Linked DNA regions of Homo sapiens: region 1 is linked to region 2. The links come from fine-mapping of genetic effects on gene expression. A gene starts in region 2. The other region holds a variant in brackets. All regions are shown on one strand. Distances are between the middles of the regions.

Region 1 (11,255 bases), 97 kb after region 2:
TGTGCCGTTTGTTTAAGGCGTTGGAAGAGCGCAGTATTAGGGTGGGAGTGACCCGATTTTCCAGGTGCCACCTGTCACCCCTTTCTTTGACTAGGAAAAGGAATTCCCTGACCCCTTGCACTTCCCAGGTGAGGCGACGCCTCGCCCTGCTTTGGCTCATGCATGGTGCCCTGAACCCACTGTCCTGTACCCACTGTCCGGCACTCCCCTGTGAGATGAACCCGGTACCTCAGTTGGAAATGCAGAAATCACCCATCTTCTGCATCGCTCACGCTGGGAGTTGTAGACTGGAGCTGTTCCTATTCGGCCATCTTGGCTCCACCCCCCCAGTTTTTCAATATTACATATTAAACTGCTATTGGGTTGTGTCTGCACCAGCCAGGAGCTTTCCCTGACACAGAAGAGGGAGATGATCTGAAAGTCTATAGGCAGCAGCAACAGCAGTGGAATAGTTTCGGAAAGATTAGTACCAATTCTTCTTTGAATACCTGATAGAATTCAGCTGTGAATCCATCTGGTCCTTGACTTTTTTTTTGGTGGCAATTTTTTATTACCATTTCAATTTCACTATTTGTTACTGGTCTGTTCGGAATTTCTATTTCTTCCTGATTTAATCTAGGAAGGTTGTATATTTCAAGAAATTTTTCTATCTCCTTTAAATTTTCTAGTTTGTATGTGTAAAGGTGTTAATAATCCCCATGAATGCACTTTTGTATTTCTGTGGTATCAGTTGTAATATCTCCTGTTTTGTTTCTAATTGAACTTATTTGGATCTTCTCTTGTCTTTTCTTGGTTATTCTCATTAATGGTCTATCAGTTTTGTTTATCTTTTCAAAGAACTGGCTTTTTGTTTTATTTATCTTTTGTATTTTTTGTTTCAATTTCATTTAGTTCTGCTGTGATCTTTGTTATTTATTTTCTTCTGCTGAGTTTGAGTTTAGTTTGTTCTTGTTTCTCTAGTTCCTTGAGGTATGACCTTAGATTGTCTATTCATGTTCTTTCAGCTTTTTGATGTAAGCATTTAATGCTATGAACTTTCCTCTTAGCACTGCTTTGACTGTATCCAAGAGGTTTTTGTAAGTTGTGTCACTATTATCGTTCCATTCAAAGAAATTTTACATTTCCATCTTGATTTCATTGTTGACCCAAAGATCATTCAAGAGCAGATTATTTAATTTCCATGTATTTGTATAGTTTTGATGGTTCCTTTTGGAGTTAATTTCCAATTTTATTCCACTGTGGTCTGAGAGGATACTTGATATAAGTTTGATTTTCTTAAATTTATTGAGACTTGTTTTGTGGCCTATCATGTTGTCTATCTTGGAGAATGTCCCATGGGCTGAAGAAAAGAATGTATATTCTGCAGTTGTTGGGTAGAATGTTCTGTAAATATTTGTTAAGTCCATTTGTTCTAGGGTATAGTTGAACTCCATTGTTTCTTTGTTGACTCTGTCTTGGTGAACTGTCTAGTGCTGTCAGTGGAGCATTGAAGTCCCCCACTATTGTGTAGTTGTCTATCTCATTTCTTATGTCTAGTCATAATTGTTTTATAAATTTGGGAGCTCCTGTGTTAGGTACATATATATTTAGGATTGTGATATTTTCCTCTTGGAGTGATCCTTTCATTATGATATAATGTCCCTCTTTGTCTTTTTTTTTTTTTTTTTTTTTTTTTTTTTTTGAGACAGAGTCTCGCTCTGTCACCCAGCCTGGAGTGCAGTGGCATGATCTCAGCTCATTGCAAGTTCCACCTCCCAGGTTCACACCATTCTCCTGCCTCAGCCTCCCGAGTAGCTGGGACTACAGGCACCCGCCACCACGCCCAGCTAATTTTTTGTGTTTTTAGTAGAAATGGGGTTTCACCGTGTTAGCCAGGATGGTCTCCATCTCCTGACTTTGTGATCTGCCCACCTTGGCCACCCAAAGTGCTGGGATTACAGGTCTGAGCCACCACGCTTGGCCCCCTCTTTGTCTTTTTAAACTGTTGTTGCTTTAAAACCTGTTTTGTCTGTTATAAGAATCGCTACTCTTGCTTGCTTCTGGTTTCCATTTGCATGGAATATCTCTTTCCCCACTTTACCTTAAGTTTATGTGAGTTCTTGTGTGCTAGGTGAGTCTCTTGAAGACAGCAGATACTTGGTTGGTGGATTTTTATTCACCTTGATGTGGTACTCTCCTGCTTCCCCTAGGGACGGGGCTACCTGAGAGCTGGACTGCAAAGATTGGTATTGCTCTTCTGGGTCTAACCATGCAGTGGGGCTACCAGGCTCTTGGCTGGTGCTGGGAGATGTTTGCAAAGAGTCCTATGATGGGATCTGTCTTCAGGTCTCCCAGCTGTGGATACCAGCACCTGCTCTGGTGGAGGTGGCAGGGGAGTGAAGTAGACTCTGTGAGAGTCTTTGGTTATAGATGTTTAGTGTGCTGGCTTTCTCTAATGCTGGTTATGCTAGCAGTGAGATTGTAATATGGACAGACTTGGGACCCACTTGCTAGCCAGGATTTGGCATGCAGTGGAATTAACTCCTGTTTCTCCTTCCTTGGAGCAAGGTTGTTCTGTCATGAGTTGCTGTAATGTCCTGAGTTGGTTGGCCTCCAGCCAGGAGGTGGTGCTTTCAAGAGAGCACCAGAGTTTTTTTCCTGTTTCACAGAATTTGCAGTGGCCTGCTCCTTCTTTTCATTATGTTATTTTAATTACATCTGAGAGTTACAGAATGAATAAAAATTTAGAAGTAGACAAACATATGAGTCCTCATTTTTACATTAATATATAAATGTAAGTAGACAATAAAAAGTAGAAGAAAAGCCTATTTTTAGAAAAGACCAAATTAATAGCTCCTAACAGTGTCAGGGACATTTATTTGTTCATCAGTTGAGTCTGCATAGACAATCTTTGAATCACCACAGCTGTTTGAGCAAACCTGGATTGGAGGACAAGCTATGCAGTTAACTCTGAATTTTGGCTAAATATTTGACAACTTCTAAGCAGATCCTATCAGACGTCTTCATCACTCCAGACTTCAGTCCCAGGCATCACAGGAAAGAGGATATCATCATTTTAGTCTTCCTTGTTGGTATGTGGCAGAGTCATATTATGGTATTAATTTCTACTTTCCTGATGATTCATGAAGTTGAGCACTTTTACATATGTTTATTGGCCATTTGGATATTCACCTTTATGAACAATGATTCTTTTTCGGTTTTATCTTTAGTCAAAAAATAGTTCTAAGAATAGCTCCCATACTGGAAAATTCTGTGCTTCCTTTCCTATCCAGGTGATTATTTCCAAGCTTTGACATTTGGTAGTTCTAAGAAAAGCCTCAAAGCCAGGAGAGGTGAGAAAGAAGAGCCAAGAGAATGGGCGCAGCCAACGTTGGGCACTCTCCGAGCTCTTAAAGTTCCACAGTGGGGGCAGGAACTCAAGGACTTTCTCTGTGCACTTTGGAATTGTCAGTTTACTCTCCCCTCAGAAGTTCGGAGAGATGATTTATATTTCACATTTAGAGCTAGCAACGTACTCTGAACTCCTTTTCCTTCTTCCTTTGGAATTTAGAATCTAGATTGATTTCAGTGACTGCAGAGAGATGAAGATAAAAGACATTCTGTCCTCTTCAGCCCCTAATTGGGCAGGCAACACACAGGGAGTTGGGTTTGCTGACAAGGCTAAGCATTTTGGGCGTTGAATACCTATTATGTGCCTAGGGCATTAAAGTGATAAGAAAATCTCTTAAGGTCTGCCAATGATTTTGAAATTTTAACAGCTCAGTTTTCCTGATGCCAGATGGGGGACAGGGAGTGGGAGAACTGGGTACAAGGGTGTTGCTGGAGGAGAGATGGGGACACCCTGAGGGAGGGTTGTCAAATGTTGGCCTAGGCACAGTGATTGGGTGACTGGGAGGTGAGCGATCAGCCTTCTGCACCTGGAAAATAGGGCATGGCTGGGCTTCCCCTGTCCAGCCTCATTTTGTATGAGGATCGATATACTGTCTCCATATTTGACTATTCTGAAGATTTTGTACAAGTGGAATTATACAATAAAAATAATAATTATTTTAAAAAGAGAATACAAAAAATTAAAAAAAAAAAAAGATAAAAAAGAGGATACAGAGGTGAGTGTTTGGAGTCACTAGTGCTCCCTGCAGATAGCCTTGGGATCTGGCCTCAAGTGAAGGAGAGCTGGATGTACTCTTGTGCACAGCTTCCAAAGCATGCTCCCCAAGCCCCACTTTAATTTTAATGGCTCCCCTTATTAACTCTGCAGCTCAGGTAAATAAAAATTCCTATAAAACATATTCTCGACTCTTGACTACATTCCCATGTAAAAAGTACTTCACTGCAGGTTGTGATAAAAAAATGTTTGAAAGCTGCAGGCCTCGGGTGGATCTGTAGAGGGCCTTTCTCTGTGGTACTATTCCTATCACAACTCTTGTGTTAGTATTTACCACTCAACAGTTTTGTTGTATCTTAGTACATTATAGGATGTTTATGAAATATCATTTATTCTATTACCAAAAAAGTATTAAGATGCAGGTTCAGGCTTCCAGCATACTCCTGGAGGACTGGGGAAACCAGGCCTGTACAAACCATACCAGATGCCATGTGACCACCATCATCATCTTCCTTCCAGCTGATGCTAACTGATCAGCACTGTTCCTCTCCCCACAAACCTCCAGGCTGTCCTGTTTTATTCCTCCTTTGCCTTTGCCTGTTCTCTCTGCCTAGGATACCCTCCCCACCCTTATGTGCCTTTAACCCTCCTATTCACTCTTCAAAACCCCATTATGTGTCCTCTCTGTGAAGCTTTCAAACAGCTCTTCTATATAAGAAATTCCCAGTTTCTGTACCTGTATATTTAAGAATTATTGCATATATTACACTCTATTAAAATGATTCACCTATTTAAAATCCCAGATCATGAGCCTCCACCACCCCCCTACCTGCCCCCACCCTCTTCCAGAGCTGCCTCTGGTGCTAGCTTAGTTATCCCTGTATCCCCAGGGCTAATCAAAGGGCCTGGACCAGAATAAGAGCTTAATAAGGGGGTCTGCAATAAACCTAGTTAAAGTTGGTTTAACTGGTCCTATGTCCAGTGGTTCCATTATTTATGGATTTTAACTTACAAATTTTTCCAGAACTAGGTGCTGGAAGAAAATGTAACCCGCTGCTGACCATCAAGGAAAGCTATAGGGGAAGTTTCAGGGTTCACAGGCATTTCAGACAGCCTCTCAGAATCTAACCTGTTTGTAGAGGAAACCCCTCTGCAGATCCACCCAAGGCCACCAGCTTTTAAACATTTTCCATCATGACCTGAAGTGAGAAGTCCTTTTCACATTAAGACACACCAGGCCGGGCGCGGTGGCTCACGCCTGTAATCCCAGCACTTTGGGAGGCCGAGAAGGGCGATCACGAGGTCAGGAGATCGAGACCATCCTGGCTAACACAGTGAAAGCCCGTCTCTACTAAAAATACAAAAAATTAGCCGGGCTGGTGGCGGGTGCCTGTAGTCCCAGCTACTAGGGAGGCTGAGGCAGGAGAATGGCGTGAACCCAGGAGGCGGAGCTTGCAGTGAGCCCAGATTGTGCCACTGCACTCCAGCCTGGGCGACAGAGCAAGACTCCATCTAAAAAAAAAAAAAAAAGACACGCTGAACACCTACATCAGAGACCAGAGACAAGGCTTTCATGAAACAATATTTATCCTTGCTATGGGTATTGCTCCCATTTTCTCTTTTTTTAAAAAAAATTATGGCTGGTCACCACCCATTGAATTGATTTTGTGACTCTTTAGTCTCACTGGTTGCATTCCACAGTCTAATGAACACTCCTCTAGGCCTTCAGCTTATGTAACCAGAGAAATCTTCTCCAAGGAGAAGCCATTGACCCTGAAGGCCAGCTCAGAGGAGCAGGCAGGAGGCGGTATGCAGTGGGGGCTGGGATGAGAAGGTGCCAGGATGGCACAGGGCACACTCTAACTGCTTCCCTCTCATTGCAGCCGAGCCCCTGCCACTGATGGACCTGTGCCGGAGATCCATCCGCTCGGCCCTGGGCCGCCAGCGCCTGCAGGACATCAGCTCCCTGCCCCTGCCTCAGTCTCTCAAAAACTATCTGCAGTACCAGTGAGCCAAGCCTGATGGGCAGCACAGACACAGACACACACCGCAGGGCCCGACCCTCCTGTCATTCACAGTCCCATGGCACATAGGGGAAAGGATCTACCCTTCTCCTGGCTCCCCAGGACACTCAGTTCTTTCAAAGACCAGGATGTGGTACCAACTTTGGAAACGAAAGGTCTCTTGCCAACAGTATCTACTGCCCTCGAGGCAGCCCTCCCAAGTCAGACACCTCCTTCGGAGCCACAGAGAGCCTGGAGTCTGCACCTCCTGGAAATCCTGCCACCAACCAGGACACAGCAGCCACCGTATTGATCAGAGAGCCTGTTTCCTTATTCAAGAGAATGAATAAAACATTTAGGCAGGAGACTTTCTATTGTGTGCCCCGTTGCAGACAGGGCCAGGGAGAAATTAGCCAGTGCAGGGGGAAAATTGCCTCTGAATAATGAATGATGAAAGCCTGACGCCGTGCCCCTCCTGGCCCATACGCCTTGCCAGGGCGGCAGGATTGTCACACCGTTTTAGGACTCTGTGCCACTTTGAGAGACTGTTCCCAGGAGGCCCAACCGCAGACCTGGCAAGTGGACAGTGCAGTGTGGAGACACCTTCCGGCTTACCTCTTTGAA[C/A]GTTGTTTACCTACCCCTTTCCACGTGCTCCCCTTCCCAGCCACTGACTCACAGTTCTCTGGATGCCCAGACACCTCTCTTCAGGGAAGATGAGTCTGACTGGTTTGCCCCAGGGAAGAGCATATCCTTACCATTATTTTAAGTAGCATTTGCATTTTAAAAGAGGAATGCGGAGAGGACAGTACTTAGTCCAAAGGTGCTAACGGGGGAACTGGGGGCATTGTGACACCCAAGTCTGATGTGTCCTGGGTTGGGGGGCCTTCCTGGAGTGTCAGGGTCTCTGGGCAACGTCCATTCAGGGTGCGGCATGGCTGTCACAAAGCTTTATTTGAGCAAATTATTTTTTCACTTTAGGAGACTTCTACAAGTTTGTTTCCTGTTTCAAATGTGTGTGTGATGTGCTGTTTATTTATCAGCTTGAGGTCCATGGGGGCAGCCTTGTGACTGGAAGGGTGGATATGGGAGACACATTCTCTACCTGCTCCGAGCCTGGTCCTCTCGCAGGAATGCTGCTGCTGCCTCCGCCGCCACTGCTGCTGCCACCTCTTATATGTTTCAGACACTCTCTGCCCAGACTCATTTTTAACTGGAAATCATCACAGCAGTGGGATATCAGAGCCCCAGACAGCACTGCCTCTTCCTCCCCACCCCACTGCCCCCACCTTAATGTGAATTTGACTGATGAATGAAGAGCGTTTCTAATAAAGTTTGTCATTCAGTCCTTCAGCTGCGTATTAAATGTTGTTTGGGGAGGGACCCAGAGAGCTTCTTCCATCAACCTGCCTGGTCCGTCAGACTGATAGAAGCCAGGCACGTGAATCCCTCTTTAGACATTTCTTGTCTCTTCTGACTTGTGGTCCTTGCTTGAGCCCAAACTCCAGCTATTTTGCAAAGGCCTGCCCTGGACAAGAGAATGTGCCTGTGTCCTGGGTACATGCAAAGCTGACCTTATGGTGGAGAAACAACTCAGCCTCCTGTTGCCAGAGCCAAGGGGTAGCCCTGCAAAGGGGCTTAGGGTCAGGCAGGGCAAACCCTATGGAACACCAGTTTCCAAGTGGACTGGAGGTGGGGCTGGATGTGACTGTAGTGAATGCATGTTGTCACCAAGGAGCAGTGCAAATTGTTGAAGCATGAGTGTAAAGAAAGGCCAGGCTCAGAGCTGATAGCAGTTCAGGAGTTAGAGTCAGGATAGGGTCTGGGTAAGGACTGGAATAGCATTCATTCAGCAGTACCAGCCAACAGCATGCGCTGTGCCAATTTCCAGGGACCCAGCGCCCAGGCTGATATATCTCATCTCCAGAGATGTGTAGTACAGCATAATAAAGTGAGAAGGAGCTCATGAAGAGGGGTGGATGAGAATAGAATATGAAGGGAAGGCTTCCTGGAGGAAGAGGCACTCTCCAGACTTGTTATTTTAAGGGCAGACAAGCTTCCTGAGGACCACCAAGAGACCAAACTTGCAGCACCTGCCCCCAGGGTAATGTTTCCAGCTCTGACCTCGGGGCTGGGCTCCGCATCAGGCAGCTTTCAGTCATTTTGTTTGCCAAAGGCAGCTTCCTGTGGCCATGACATGGAGGCTTTGAGGCTTTGTGTGTAGGAAGCCTGGGTTTGAGTCCCAGCTTCATCGTTTATGTGCTATGACCTTGGGGAAGTCACTTCCTTCTGTGCACACTGTGCTGGCTGAGCCAGGTAGCCAGTAACTGGGAACTCTTCCTCTCCCAGCTCATGGAGTCCCCATCTCAGCACCAGCTTTCCAGCTTGGATGCATCTGTCTTATCTCGGCTTCCAAGCCTCACTTATGTGGTTTCCCTCACCCTAACAATGTCCTCCCCATCTTTACCCTCTCAAGGATCTGGCTTAGCGTGGCTTCCTTGAGGAAGCCCTCTTTAACCACTCCCCCCATCTCTGCTTCTTCTGAGAATTCAGCTCTTCATGTCCTGACCTGAGGATGCCACTCCTGGGGCCCAGGACCCTCTCCTGAGCACAGGGACTTGAGCTCCTTTGCCCTGTGGTCTCACCTGCCCAGGGAGCTGTGGACCTTTGACGGGCAGGGCCTCTGCCTGCTCCTTCCCACACAGCCCAGACCAGACACATGGGCTCAGCAAAGATGGAGTGGTGGGTGAAGGTGCCCCTGCAGCTGGGATGACCATGGGAAACTGCAAGGAGGAGCGGGGAAGGGAGGATCCTCCCAGAGCCAAGAACCTGGCCTTGAGGCTCACGGATCTCTTGCCCTTTCATTCCCTCACCTTTTCCCAGGTATTTATAAGGCATTTTTCATGCACTCAGCACTATTATGAGAACATGAATAAGGAAATCTGGCCCTGCCATATCAGAGCTCACATTCTAAGGGAGAGACAGGACACACAAGCAAAGAAACAGATGATGTCAGAGGGCGGAGATGAGCAGCGGGTAGGCTAGAGCCAGGGAGCAAAAGGGACCCAGTAATTGAGGGTGATGGGGGGAGGCCCTCTGGGAAGATGCTGAGTACTGAAGAAATGAGAGGGAGCCAAATACCTGAAAGGGCGTGGATCTCCAGGTCATGGGGGGACTTCTGGCTCTCCCAACCTTCTCAAAGTGGGAACTCCCGAGCCCCAATGAGTTGAGCTGAGGAAAGGAAGCCCCTGTGCTGCCACTCCTGCCCAAGCCGCAGCTCAGCATCCCTGTGTGTGTGAGCCCCACACACCTCCAGGCTTGCTTGTGCAATTGTGCTCCCTGCAGGCATGCAAGTGCACCCACACACAGACACACACACGACCAAGGGCCTCTCCCCAGCAGACATCCTGGGAGCTCATGACCACCCCCCAGCGCCAGAGTCCATTATAACCCGGGCCCAGCCCCCTCCCATGCTTGGCACATTCTCTAAAGTTTGGCCTCTCCACGACCCATTTCCAGCAGGGGGACTTGCCAAAGCAGTCTCGCTAGTCACTTTGTAATTGTCTACGAATAGAGCATATGGTGGCACCGTCCCCCACAGATCTGATGATCCCCATGAGCACCCTGTTTCACTCTACCCCATTTGACATTCCCATATTCTGAGTAAAGCCACCCTTTTTCCCTTGCTTTCCTCCTCTGTCATCTGCACTAGCAGCTGGCTCCTGTGTGGGTTATCTTTCACTAGGAAACAAACATTTCATCTCCTTACAGTGTTACAGAAGAAGTGGGAGCAGGTAGCAAGTAACCCCATTATATGGCAGTTGATTTGTGCCAGGGCAGCTGTCTCTGTCCCCAGGGCCTTGGTCCCAGCCACAGCCTCTGAACAGGCGGCGCATATTTGCCAAGTCAGAAGAACAGGGAACCACACAGCATTACTCTTCAGGTCCCTAACAAGGAGTGGAAATGCCCAGTTTTAGTCCAAAACACAAGAAAATTGGTCCACTCTTGCCTATAGTTCTGGGTGCTTGGATCTCATTCCAGCCTACAGATTTGTTTTGTTATCATACTTGTGTGTGTGTGTGTGTGTGTGTGTGTGTGTGTGTGTGTGTGTGTGTGTGCGCGCGCGTGTGTTTTAATAAAATTGAGCCTAACAAAGAAAAATCAAGTAATTTAATAGAAAAATCCAGATTTCAGACTTCTCTTGAAAAATGGGGAGAGGTGTTAAAGCCAGGCCCACATTCCTTCATGGTGAGGTTGGCCAAAGCTGAGTAAAGGAAAGGCCTCTGCTCTGTGGTCCAGCCCTACGTCCAACCCTCCCACAACATAGCACTGGGACCTCTCACTGCCGCCACCCTCAAGGGCGTTCACTCCCTGCGTCTGGGCTAAGGCTTCTGAGTTTGCTTCTCTGGACTATTGGTATAAGACACATAAGTGGGTAGTAAGTACCCACACGTAGGCGTGCACACACATACACACACACGCGTGCACACACACACACCCACGACAGAGGGAGGGCTCAGGAGGGGAGAGTCTGCTAGCTCTGCACTTGACTTTGAAGTCTCTCCAGCCTCAGCCACCAATATTCAAGGAGCTCACAGATGCCCAGGATCTTTACTCAGACACCAGAGAAACCCAGGTGTTCCTGGCTAGATGGTGAACTCCTAGAGGACAAGGACAAGAATTCTCAGGGCCTATTTGTAATGAGCTGGGTGACATGATTAGACAGCCTGGCTGCACATTAGAATCCCTTGAGGAACTTTGTAAAAAGGCCCAGTGTACAGGCCCTTCTTCAGTCCAATTAAATCAGGACCTCTGTGGGTAGGGCCGGGCCATGGCAGTTTTTAAAGCTCCCTAGATGGTTCTAATGCTCAACTAGGGCTGAGAACCACTGGATAAGGCGCTTAATTAAGTCAGCTCCTTGAAGAGGTGGTTGACGTTTGTGAGAATGCACATCCTAGACCAGAAAACGCTGGCCCAGGCTCCCTGCATTCCCACAGCCGACGGGATACTGAGTGGTGGGAGTCCCCAGTGTGGCCAGGTCCAAAGGCAGGGAGTCCCTCCCAGCCCTTCTTCCCCCTTTCCAGCGATGCCGAGCTGGTTGCTCCTGAGCATGGGGGAGAAAGGACCAGCCACACCTGCCCTGATGCTGC
Region 2 (11,255 bases):
AGACTCCAAAAGAGGGTTCTTGGATCTTGGGCAAGAAAGAATTTGGGGCAAGTCCATAAAGTATAGTGAAATCAAGTTTATTAGAGAAGTAAAGAAACAAAAGAATGACTACTTCATAGGCAGAGCAGCCCTGAGGGCTGCTGGTTGACTATTTTTATGGCTATTTCTTGATCATATGCTAAACAAGGAGTGGATTATTCATGAGTTTTTTGGGAAAGGGGTGGGGATTTCCTGGAACTGTGGGTTCCTCTCCTTCTTAGACCATATAGGGTAACTTCTGGACATTGTCATGGCATTTGTAAACTGTCGTAGCACTTATGGGAGTGACTTTTAGCATGCTAATGCATTATAATCAGTGTATAATGAGCAGCGAGGATGACCAGAGGTCACTTTCATCACCATCTTAGATTTGGTGGGTTTTGGCCAGCTTCTTTACTGCATCCTGTTTTATCAACTGGGTCTTTGTGACATGTATCTTGTGTCAACCTCCTATCTCATCCTGTGTCTAAACATGCCTAACCTCCTGGAAATGCAGCCCCACAGATCTCATTCTCATTTTACCCAGCCCCTATCTAAGATGGAGTTGCTCTGGTTCAAATGCCCCTGACACATCCAGTGGCAAGGGAGGCTAGGAAATGAAAGAGTTTTGTTTATCTGAATTTACCAAAAACAAATTGTGAAGAGGGTTTTCAAAAGATTTTGAGCATCATGTCATGACTGAATGCTGGGCTTTTTGGCCATTACTGCGAAGTGACTCTGCTTCCTACCTAGAGTAATACGGTGGGGAATTCCCCAGCTTAGGCAGGGGAATTCAGCTGCTCAAGGTCCAAAAGTAACAAATGCCAATAGAGGAAAGTACTCTTATTAGTTCCATTTTACAAATTGGAAACTGAAATTTCCTAGACATTTAGTAACTTGTGTAAGACCACAGCCCAAAGAACAAACATTTGCCAAGCCCTCATATACATAACCTCCTTTCATCTTTACAATTTTATGTGGTAAATGTTATTGCCCCCATTTCATATAAGAGAAAAATGAGGATTATAGAAATCAATTAAAAGCTAAAGATTCTGTGGTACGTGCAACCCTGCCATGATCTGCCATGCCCATCTTGAAGCTTCCTCCCAGGGTACCAAGTCATTTTATAGCAGAACTCTCCAGGCCTCCGTGCGTGTGTGTGTATGTCCTTAATATCTTGTCCTACACAAAATTCGATGACCACTGGATATATTTGGATATCTGTCACTGAGCCTCACCTGTCTTCTTTCCTACTGCAGACTAACTCAGGTCTTTTCCAGAGTCCTCCTGGGAGGCTGAGACTTCTGGGCCCCACTAGGTCTAATTATCTAAGAAGTAAAGGGGAATGGGGCAGGGAATGGAATGGCCTGGAATCTGAAGCCCTGTCAGTATGCAAATCACTTACTTGCATGCAAATCATTCCAAGGAAATGGAGCTGGGTATCCCTTGGTCAAACATTTTTGTCTCCTGTGAATGATGCAAATTACTTTTGGTACCTACAGCCCTCCCTGTTTTGTGGCTAGATTGAAAAATTTTTAGCCCTGCATTTGAATAGGCTGACCCATGCTAGACAGTGATGAAGAGGACAAGACACAATGATTCCACTCCTATGAAAAGACCCAAGAAAACATTAGCACAGATCCACCAGGGAACCTGTTCAGAAATGTTCATAGCAGCACTGTTTATAGTAGCTCCAAAATAAAACCAATCTGAACACCTATGGAAGGAGAATGGAAAAATTAATTGTGTATGTTCACCCAATGAACTATTATAGAGCCATGAAAATGAATGAGATACTGTTACATGCATCAACATGGATGAATCTTGTTAAGTCCAATGGCAATTCCTAGAAAATGATATATAGTATAGTACCTTTTAATAAAGTTCAAAAAGCAAGTAAAGCTAAATAAATTCATGTTACATGTATTTTTAAATCCAAGGAAATGATAAACCATAAAAATCAGGATAGTGGCCAGGCGCAGTGGCTCACGCCTGTAATCCCAGCACTTTGGGAGGCTGAGATGGGTGGATCACGAGGTCAGGAGTTCAAGACCAGCCTGGCCAAAATGGTGAAACTCCATCTCTACTAAAAACACAAAAAATTAGCCAGGCATGGTGGCAGGAGCCTGTAATTCCAGCTACTCGGGAGACTGAGGCAGAGAATTGCTTGAACCTGGGAGGTGGAGGTTGCAGTGAGCTGAGATGGTGCCACTGCACTCCAGCCTGGGTGACAGAGCAAGACTCCATCTAAAAAAAAAATCAGGATAGTGTTTTTGTGTGAAGGAGAGGCAAAAAGATGGGCTAGGAAAGGAGCACCCGGGAAGATGTAGGTGTTGGAAATGTTCTAGGTCTTGGGTTCAATAGTGGGTTCATGTGTGTTCATCATGTTATGAATAAATACATGAATTAATAAGTCCCATACTTGGGCTAATGTTGACAATGTGTCATGATCAAGGATTATGATTAATTCAATTCTGATCATTCAATACCTAAATGGAAGACAGAAATAGAGAGGGAGAGAGAGAAGCCAATGGAGCTGGCCTTTCTTCCTTTTTTCCTCCCTCCCTTCCTCCCTGCCTGCCTGTCTTTCTTTTCTTTTCCTTTACCTTTAATTATTCCACAAACATCTACTGTTTGTCGACTGTATACCATGCCCCAGGCTGAGAACTAGGAACACTGGGATGAATCAGACACAGTCCTGCCCTACAGAGTCACCATGTGATGCAAGAGTCTGACAATTCCCCAAATGTTTTCAAGGTGCTATGACAGATGTAAAGCAACAAGGTGTGGTAGGGCTTACAGAAGGGGCCCTTAATCCAGCCTGGGCTATTTGGGAAGACTGTGGAGCTTTCTGCTTTGAGAAATTAGCAAGAAGAAAATGTGGTTGGGGGTGTAACAGCTATAAAAATGAAAAAGACAGCCTTGCCCTTGAAGTGCTCATATCTTGGGGTGAGGGACAAGAAAGGAGGTCACAACAGTGGGACTTGGGGTTGTGAGAGAGGCAAGCACAGGCTTGAGATGCACATAGGAGGGCACCGTGCTGTGCCTGCAGTGTTGGGAAGGCTTCCTGGAGGAGATGACATGTATACAAGCAGAGAGACGAAGTATGAATTAGAGTTACCTGGAAAGTCTGTACCAGGAAGAAAGGTAAGCACCTACAATGGCCTGTGGCAGGGAGAAAGAGCATGGAGGAGCTCAGGGGGCCCCAGTGTGGCCTGGCCCAGAGCGCAAATGAGAGGAGGTGAAACTAGATGAGTAGGCAGGGAGCCAGATTCCATGAAAAAGCATGAAAATTATGCTGTGGACCATGGGGTACCTCTGAAGGGAGTGGCAAGGGTGATTTTTCCTTCATGAAGAGAGCCCAGCAGTAGAGGTGAGGGGGCCGCTATAACTGCTAGGGAAAGAGATGGTGATGCTTGGGCTGTAAAGAGGAACAGAATTTGAGAGCTGAGCACCTGATGGACAATGCTGCATGGCAGGCTGGGCTCAAACAGGGTTGCTCCTGAGGGGTGGGCAGAGGACATTCAAACCTCACACAACACAGTTCTGTCTTGCCACAGACCTCCTTGGAGCAAGCTGCAAGCTCCAAAATTTCTCAGAACTGAAAGTTTTTCCTCCAACTTCTGTAAAACCATGGTTAATACTTTTACAAGACAGAGAAGGAGTCCGAGATTTCAATAGCTAAAAACTGGGAAGTAGACCGAATACCATTCCTTGTGGGAGCAAAGGCAGGAGGAGTGAGGTTCAGAGCTTTGCTTTATCCAAGGGGTTCTGGACCCCTGACTGCAGCAGCTCCCTACTGGACCTTCTGCCCCAGGCATTACTTTGCCTTAGTCCAAGAATCCCACGAATGCTACAGATCTTGGTCTACTCCTGAGAAGTAGAAGGAAAAAGATTTATTGTGCACCGACTACACGACAAGCTACAACCCACAACTGTACTCTAGGGACATTCTTCTGTTCCTGTTTAGAAATGAGAAAGCTAGGACCCAAAGGCTTGGAATTGAGATTTAAGCCCAGAGCTGTCTGACTATGCCCATGCAATACTGTACATTCTTTAGAGCAATACTGTGGCTAGTTTTTCACGGTTGCATTTTTAGACTCACTCTTGGACAGTTAAGAACATCTTGCATTAGTTACCTACTGCTGAATAACAAATTACTCCAACATTTAGCTGATTAAAACAACAAACATTTATTATCTTACAGTTTCCATGCATCAGAAATCTAAGCACAGGTAGTTGGTTTCGGTGATTCACGATCTCTCATGAGGTTGCAGTCAAGGCATCACACAGGGCTGTATTGTCCTATGAAGGGCTCAGCTCGGCGGGGCAGAGATCTGCTCCCAAGTTCACTCATGTGGTTATCGGTAGGTCTCAGTCACTCACCATATGGGCCTCTCTCCACAGTGCCACTGCAGGATATAGCAGCTGGCTTCTCCAGAGAGGTGATCCCAAAAGAGAGCAAGAGTGTATGCTCAAAACAGAAGCCACAGTCTTCTTATAACCTAATATTGGAAGGAACATCCCATTACCTCTGCTGTATTCTGTTAGTGAGAAGCAAGTCAGTAAGTCTAGCCCACACTTTAAGGGAAAGGGTTTACACAAGGGAGTATATACCAGGAGTCAGGGATCACTGGGGGCCATTTAGAAGCTGCTGATCTCAATCTAAAGAATTTTAGTAGCCAGGCTATCCTGGCTTCTCCCCAAATGGCAAGTTGTTTCCCTTGTTATCCAGAGGCTGGAGGATTTGGGGGTCTACAGGGACACAAGGGGGCCCTGTTTTGGCCCACTCCTTTGTGCCTGGGGCATAATCTCATTGGGAAAGGCCAGTGTGGTGAACCTAACTGGAGCCCCCAAGGGAGGGGGGGAGTTGTTTTCTCAAATTGTGGCCACTGCTCCCTCCCTCCCTTATCCTTGAAGCTACTGTGATGCTTCCCAGCACCGAGTGGAAGCAACGGGCATCCTCCACACACACACCCAGCCTGTCAGCCAGATGGGTAGAGAAACCATCAGCATGAACGTCTGCTTTAAACTTTCCTTTGCTTCTGAGCTTCTTTCCACAAATTTTCTTTTCTTGCTCCCCAACCACATCCATAACCCCCACAGTAGCTCACAGTAGAGGTGCTCCAGGAGCTTGTCAATAGGAGGTAGGAAGGAAAGACACCAAGTGTGAATGTAGGTCAGCACTGCCACTTAGGGCAGTTCAAATCACATTCACTGTCCTCAGCATCTATCCTATGCTGGTGCAGGGCATCCAGAGATGTGTGAGGTACCTATACTTGCCCTCCAGGGGGGGCTCACAGTTTTAGGAGGGGCAGACATGCAAACAGACAGTGATGAAACGTTAGAATAAGTACAATAAATACGTGTCAATACACACTTTTGTCACCTCATCATGGTTATCTTGGTTCATAAAGCATCATCTTATGCTTAGACTATTACAGTAGCTGCCAACCTGGTTTCCTCCATCCATCCATCCAGTTGGCTGCTAAGAGGTCTTTCTGGAATGCAAATCCGACAAGGTCACTACCCTGGTTAAAGGCCTCCCAAAGTGATGGGGAAGGTCAAGCTCTTGATACAGTCTCCACCCAAGACCCTAGACACCGTCCATCCCTCCAGTTCCGTCATACCCCCTCTGCTCATAGCACAGGCTCTGTGCTGTGATAGGTAGCTCTCCAGGTGACCATGTTGTACCCCTGCCTCCAGGAGCTAATTCATGTAGACACATTTACTAGGAAACATTCCCAGTTGCCCTTTCCAGTCTGACAAATTCGCCCCAGAACCTCTCTCAAAACGTTTCCTTCATAGAGTTGGATTGTCTTTACTTGTTTTCCATGTCCTTGATGAAATGCGCACTCTGCATCTAGACTCTGTCTGCATCTAGACTCTGTCTGCATCTAGACTCTGCCTGGTACCTGGCACAGAGAGGGATTGGGTTAGCAAATGACTGCGTAATGGACCTAAAGTCAATTCTGGGAGCACAGACGAGGGCCACCAAACCAAGAACTTTCAATTTCCCCAAGGAAGCGCAGATACCAGAAGCACCCTCGAGGCTTCTGTTTTGGCCACGCCCTTTACCCCATCGCTCAGTTCAGGCTCCCAATGAGGCGGCCCACCATCAGCGCTGGTAGAGCAAAGAGACCGACTTCCTGCGCCTCGGGTGGGCGGGGAACGCTCCTTGAGCAGGTGCGGTATGAAATTGGACTTTAAGAGATGAGTTGGAGCCTGATCTCAAAAATAAAGTGTGGACGTGTGTGTCTGAGGAAGGGGGATAATAAACCACCCTTTTTTCCTCCTGGCTGCTATTTCCCACGTGCGTTGAGTAAAGGCACCAAAGCTGCCTAGTGACTGGGTGTCTCCTCCCCGTCAGGGGCACCCACCCTGGCGCTCCAGGAGCGCTTGAATGAATCCGGGAGGACCCGCGCGCAGGAATGAATGCGAGAGCTAGGGAGTGAGCGGGCGAGTGGGCGGGTGAGTGAATGGCGACCGCGCCGCCGCCTTGGCACAGGGGCGCGGGCGCGGGCTCCACTTCCCTCTCCCGCCAGCTGGTGGCCTCGAGAAGGTGGCGGCGCCGGCAGCGGCCCGAGCTGGGACGGCCGGGGCGCGGGATGGTGGGGGAAGGGGCGTTCCCGGCGACCGCGCCTTCCGCGGCTATTGGATTAGTGGCCTTCAGGGATGAGCTCAGCCAGATCGGCTTTCAGCTGCAGCCTCCGGGCCGGCCGGGAAGGCGGGGAGCGGGCGGCGGCGGCGGAGGAGGGGGAGGCGGCGGCGGCTGCAGCATCCAGAGCTGGCCGTGGCGGCCGGCGCGCCCCGCGCACAAAAGCACCCAGCCCCAGGGGAGGGCGATGAACACACCACATCCCGGGCCCGGGCCCCAGCTGCTGCTACCGCTGCGTGCGCTCAGGGCGCTGGGGAAGACGCCCGGCGCGCCGGGGGCCAGCGGCCGAGGCGCGGCCCGTGCGCCCTGAGCGCGGGACTCGTCGCCCTCCGGGTCAGGCGCCAAGCTTCCAAGCGGCTAGAGCGCGGGCCTTGGAGCGCCCCCAGGATCGCTTCAGTAAGGCGCTTCCCCACTCCAGGCCCGACCCCCGGCGCCTGAGCGCCAACTTCGCCAAGAACGCTCCTAACTCCAGGCCATCCTGCAGCGCAGAGGGGGCGCTGCTGCCGGGCATCAGCCGTGAGGACGCGCCCCTGGCCGTGCGGAGAGAGCCGGCATTTGCGGGTCACTCGGGCGCCCCTGAGTGGGCGGCGGCGGCAGCAGACCCCTCTCCAGGGAGTCCAGGACCTGCCAGCGCTGGGGATTCTTCCCGAACAGGCGCTTGCCCTCTCTTTTATGGTAAGTACTCTCCAGCTCCTGGTGAGGGGCGCGCGGGGGCCGGGAGCCGAGATCCGGCTGCACGGACTTTGTGCGGGCCAGCACTCGACACAGCTGGCGCTCCTGACGTCCCAGTCCCTGAGAATTCCTCTCTGCAGGTTGTGGCAGTTCGAGATGGTTGATTTGCGCGCAGCCCTGGGGCGTTTGGGGCCCGGCCTTTGGTATCATGGGTTCTAAGCCCTTTGCTTCTCTGCGTAGCGGACAACGCACAAAAAACTGCCATCCGATTCACCCGCTTTGGTTTGGATCCAGGATCCGTCACTCACTGGCTGAGTGACCTTGGACAGGGCGCCAAACCTGTTTCCTCATCCGTAGGATGGGAATGATAATTGTGCACATTTTATAGGGGTATTGGAAAGATCTATGGGATGGTGTTCGTAGGTAGACATGTGCTGGGCACACAGGAAACACTCAATCATATGTTAGCTAGTATTATTATTAGCTTTGCGAGCCCAAGCTTGTTATCCAACTTTCCGAAGCTGCAGCAGTTCCGTCGTCCGTGTAATGGGGACAATAATTCCTGGGGGTCTGTTCGTCCGGGGTATTCGGAGAGGTGGAAGTAAAGCACGGGTCACGCAATAGGCACCGGTGGCTGTTGTTACCGTTTATTCCTGACTCTGGGGCAGTGAGGCTGGTCGCCTGGCCCGAGAGCGACTCAGGGACCAGTCCTGGCCTTGCTTGAATACAAACTTGTCTATGCTCGGGAAGGGAGGGGGTTGGGAGCTCAGGAAACCCTAGGCGCAGGGCTCTGGGAAGGAGGGAGGGGGTCAGAGACTTGAGCGCGGCAAATGTGTCCGCCCTGGTCGCTCTGTACGCGCCAGGGGCTCCAAGCCAGAAGGGGACGCCGAGCCCCCGACCTCTGACTGGCGGGAGAACCGGGGGAGTGGCTGCTCCCGCCGGCCCATGGCCAAGCGCAGACGGCTGCCGGCAGGAAGGAGAGGAGGGCACTTTTCTGTACCGCTGTCGCGAGAAGGTGGAGAGTTCTCAGTTCTGGAGTCAGGCTTGGGTTCGAATCTGTCTCCACCACCAGCTCGCGGTGTGACCTTGGGCAAGTTCTCTAACCTCCCCCCGCTTGGTTTCCTCTTCTGCGCCCCACTCTCCTCCTTGGGGGGTTGGGGGATGAAGATAGGAGTTCCTTTCTCTCAGACTCTGAGCCCTCTATCCTCCCACCCCCTTTCTGGCCCCCTGCCCCCCACCCGCGCAATTTGATGAGCTTAAGTCTGGAAGACGTAAAATGTGTAAAAGCATGATATAAACATCCTTTACCCAAGGGCATATTCCTCTGAGACACATACCCTCTAATTTATTCCATTTTTAAAAATGGTAATGAAAAGAATTTAAGCCACCTTTGGCAAATCACAAACAAAATTCAACTTACTGGACCTTCTACCCAAATATCTCTCCAGTTTGTATTTCTCGTTTATTTTAAAGATATATTTAATGATATAAAAATAAAATCTGCAAGGAAAAGAAATCACCAGAAACAGTCAAAAGATATATGACAAACTGTCACATATGACATATACCACTCCTATCACAACAGGCTCATCTCTTTAAATATGTAAGAGATTCCTGAGGTCAACAAACAAAAGATCAAATGGGCAAAGACACGATTCATACATGCGAAATAAAATAGAAATGATACCAAAACATATGACAAGATACCTTACCTCAATACGAAAAATGCAAGTTAAAATTACAAGATTTTTTTTTAATGTATCAAATTAGCAAGTAGTCATAACCATTTATCAGAAGCATCTTTTAAAAATGTAGATCACATTTCTCCCTAGCTCAGGACCTCCTTAAGGCTGCCACAGAGTAAAATCTAGATGATCCCAGGGGTCCTCAGGTCTGGTACTGCCCTTCTCCACCTCTTCCTCACCATTTTCCTCTCCCCCACTACCCACCCTCCTAGCCTTCTTCCTTTTACTCCAACACTCCAAAGGCTCATTCACTTGCTGTTCCCCTGCCTAGAATACTTTTCCTCCTAGTTTTTCATACAACTGAAACTTCCTCATCATTTACGTAGAACTGTCCTTGGAAGGGCTTCATTTCTATCCCAGAAAGTGGCCAAGCCACAGTGGCCAGTGCAGAATTCCTTGCCCTTTTGGGGAAAGACCTAGTACAACTCACCATACAGGAGTTACTTAATTTCCCCTGAGCTGCCCGACCTGTTGTCACACATCCATGCTCTAGAAAGGTTTTTTCTCTGTTGATACAGGAGTGAAGGGTCTTGGGCATGAAAATCAGGGGAGTGGCAGGCCGTAGATGGAGGTCACCAGAAGTCTCTGCCTATATATGTACTATATAAGTACATAGTATGTACTCTTGATTTATGTGAACATGACCATCTGTGGTAAGAAAAGATCAACTATAAAAAATTTTTAAACCAGCAACACGTTTTTAATAAAACATGGTTCCTACATAAGCCAACTAATTTATTTGCTGCTGATCAGTTCAAGAAATAGGGATTTGTTTTGAGGCTATAGGAAAAACAGTTGTGGGTGGTGTGCCCTTTGGGAAAGAGGTGGTATACCTCAAACCAGTTATCATGAACTTTGTGTGGAACTTTAGAAGAACTTTCCTAAGCAGTGTTGATTGCATGTGATTTTTGCTTCACACATTGAGTTCAGAACTTACTCCATTTAAAATGTATACGTGTGGTGGTTCATGCCCGTAATCCCAGCACTTTGGGAGGCCGAGGCGGGGGGATCGCAAGGTCAGGAGATCGAGACTATCCTGGCTAACACAGTGAAACCCCGTCTCTACTAAAAATACAAAAAATTAGCCCGGCGTGGCGGCTTGCGCCTGTAGTCCCAGCTGCTGGGGAGGCTGAGGCAGGAGAATGGCATGAACCTGGGACGCAGAGCTTGCAGTGAGCCGAGATGGCACCACTGCACTCCAGCCTGGGCAACAGAGCGAGACTCCGTCTCAAAAAAAAAAAAAAAATGCAAACCATGCAGGAGGTATAGAGTGGCTAGTCCTTCTTCAGTCTGACAAGCACGTCTTAATGCAGCCAGAGGTAACAGGTACAAGGCTGTGTACGAGTATTGGAGATAAAGGCTGGTTGGGCACTGGCTCCATTAAGAAATGCAGATGTGGTGCAAGAGATAGCAGCAGGAATCAACAGCTAAGATGAAGACAAAGTGGGTTGGAGGGCAGAGGGTGCAGTGGGACGTAGGCAAGAGGACATAATGGGGCGGAGGGAAGAGGATGTAGTGGGCTGAGGGGCTGCCACGGAGGGGTGCCCAGTTCTGCTTCTGCTAGAAGGGGCAGGGGAGTGAGAGAATGTCAGCCAGGTCAGAGAAGATGGGAAGAGTCCCAGGATGTGCTGACGAGGAGAGTCTGGCATGACTGGTCTGAGGTGGGCCGTGATGACAGACAGTGTGGAAGAAATAAGAGCAGCCTGGAGGGCCCCTGGGTGCCAAGCAAAGAGGTGCAGCTTCTCTCTGGAGAAGCTGCCTGGAGGGTTGAATGAAGAGATTGGTGGGTGTCTTGGTCCAACTTACCTGTTGGCAGCATGGAGAGTGGGTTGGCGGGCAAACAGTGGAGTCAGGGAAGCCTGCTAAGAGACCAGTGGAGTAATCCAGGCAAGTTCTGAACTAGGGGAAAGCTGACGGGGTTGAGTGGTGGGGACCAAGAGACGGGATCCATGGCAGGAACAGTGACATGCAGAGGAACCTGGCATGTGAGAGAGGGAAGAGGCCAGGCTCAGCCTAGGACCTGCAGATTCCGAGGTGCACATGGACCACAGATGTCCCGCAGGGCTGAGAGTGTGGGTGTGCCCATGGTAGGAGGCTTATGATGGAAAGAGGTCAGCTGGCCTTACAAGGTCATTTGAAACAACACCCAGGCAGGGCTGACC

The links.
Region 1: its variant is fine-mapped to the expression of SPSB4 in testis (GTEx, PIP 0.98).

Annotation. Positions count from the first base shown.
Region 1 is chr3:141,141,154-141,152,408 of GRCh38, forward strand. It overlaps SPSB4 (splA/ryanodine receptor domain and SOCS box containing 4), which reads left to right. Exons shown (of 3, transcript NM_080862.3): 3 at 5,989-7,458. The coding sequence ends at 6,116. Among named protein-coding and RNA genes, the nearest start is that of PXYLP1, 85 kb to the right of the region's middle. The variant C/A (reference allele first, on the strand shown) is at 6,733.
Region 2 is chr3:141,044,642-141,055,896 of GRCh38, forward strand. It overlaps SPSB4 (splA/ryanodine receptor domain and SOCS box containing 4), which reads left to right and starts at 6,706. Exons shown (of 3, transcript NM_080862.3): 1 at 6,706-7,351.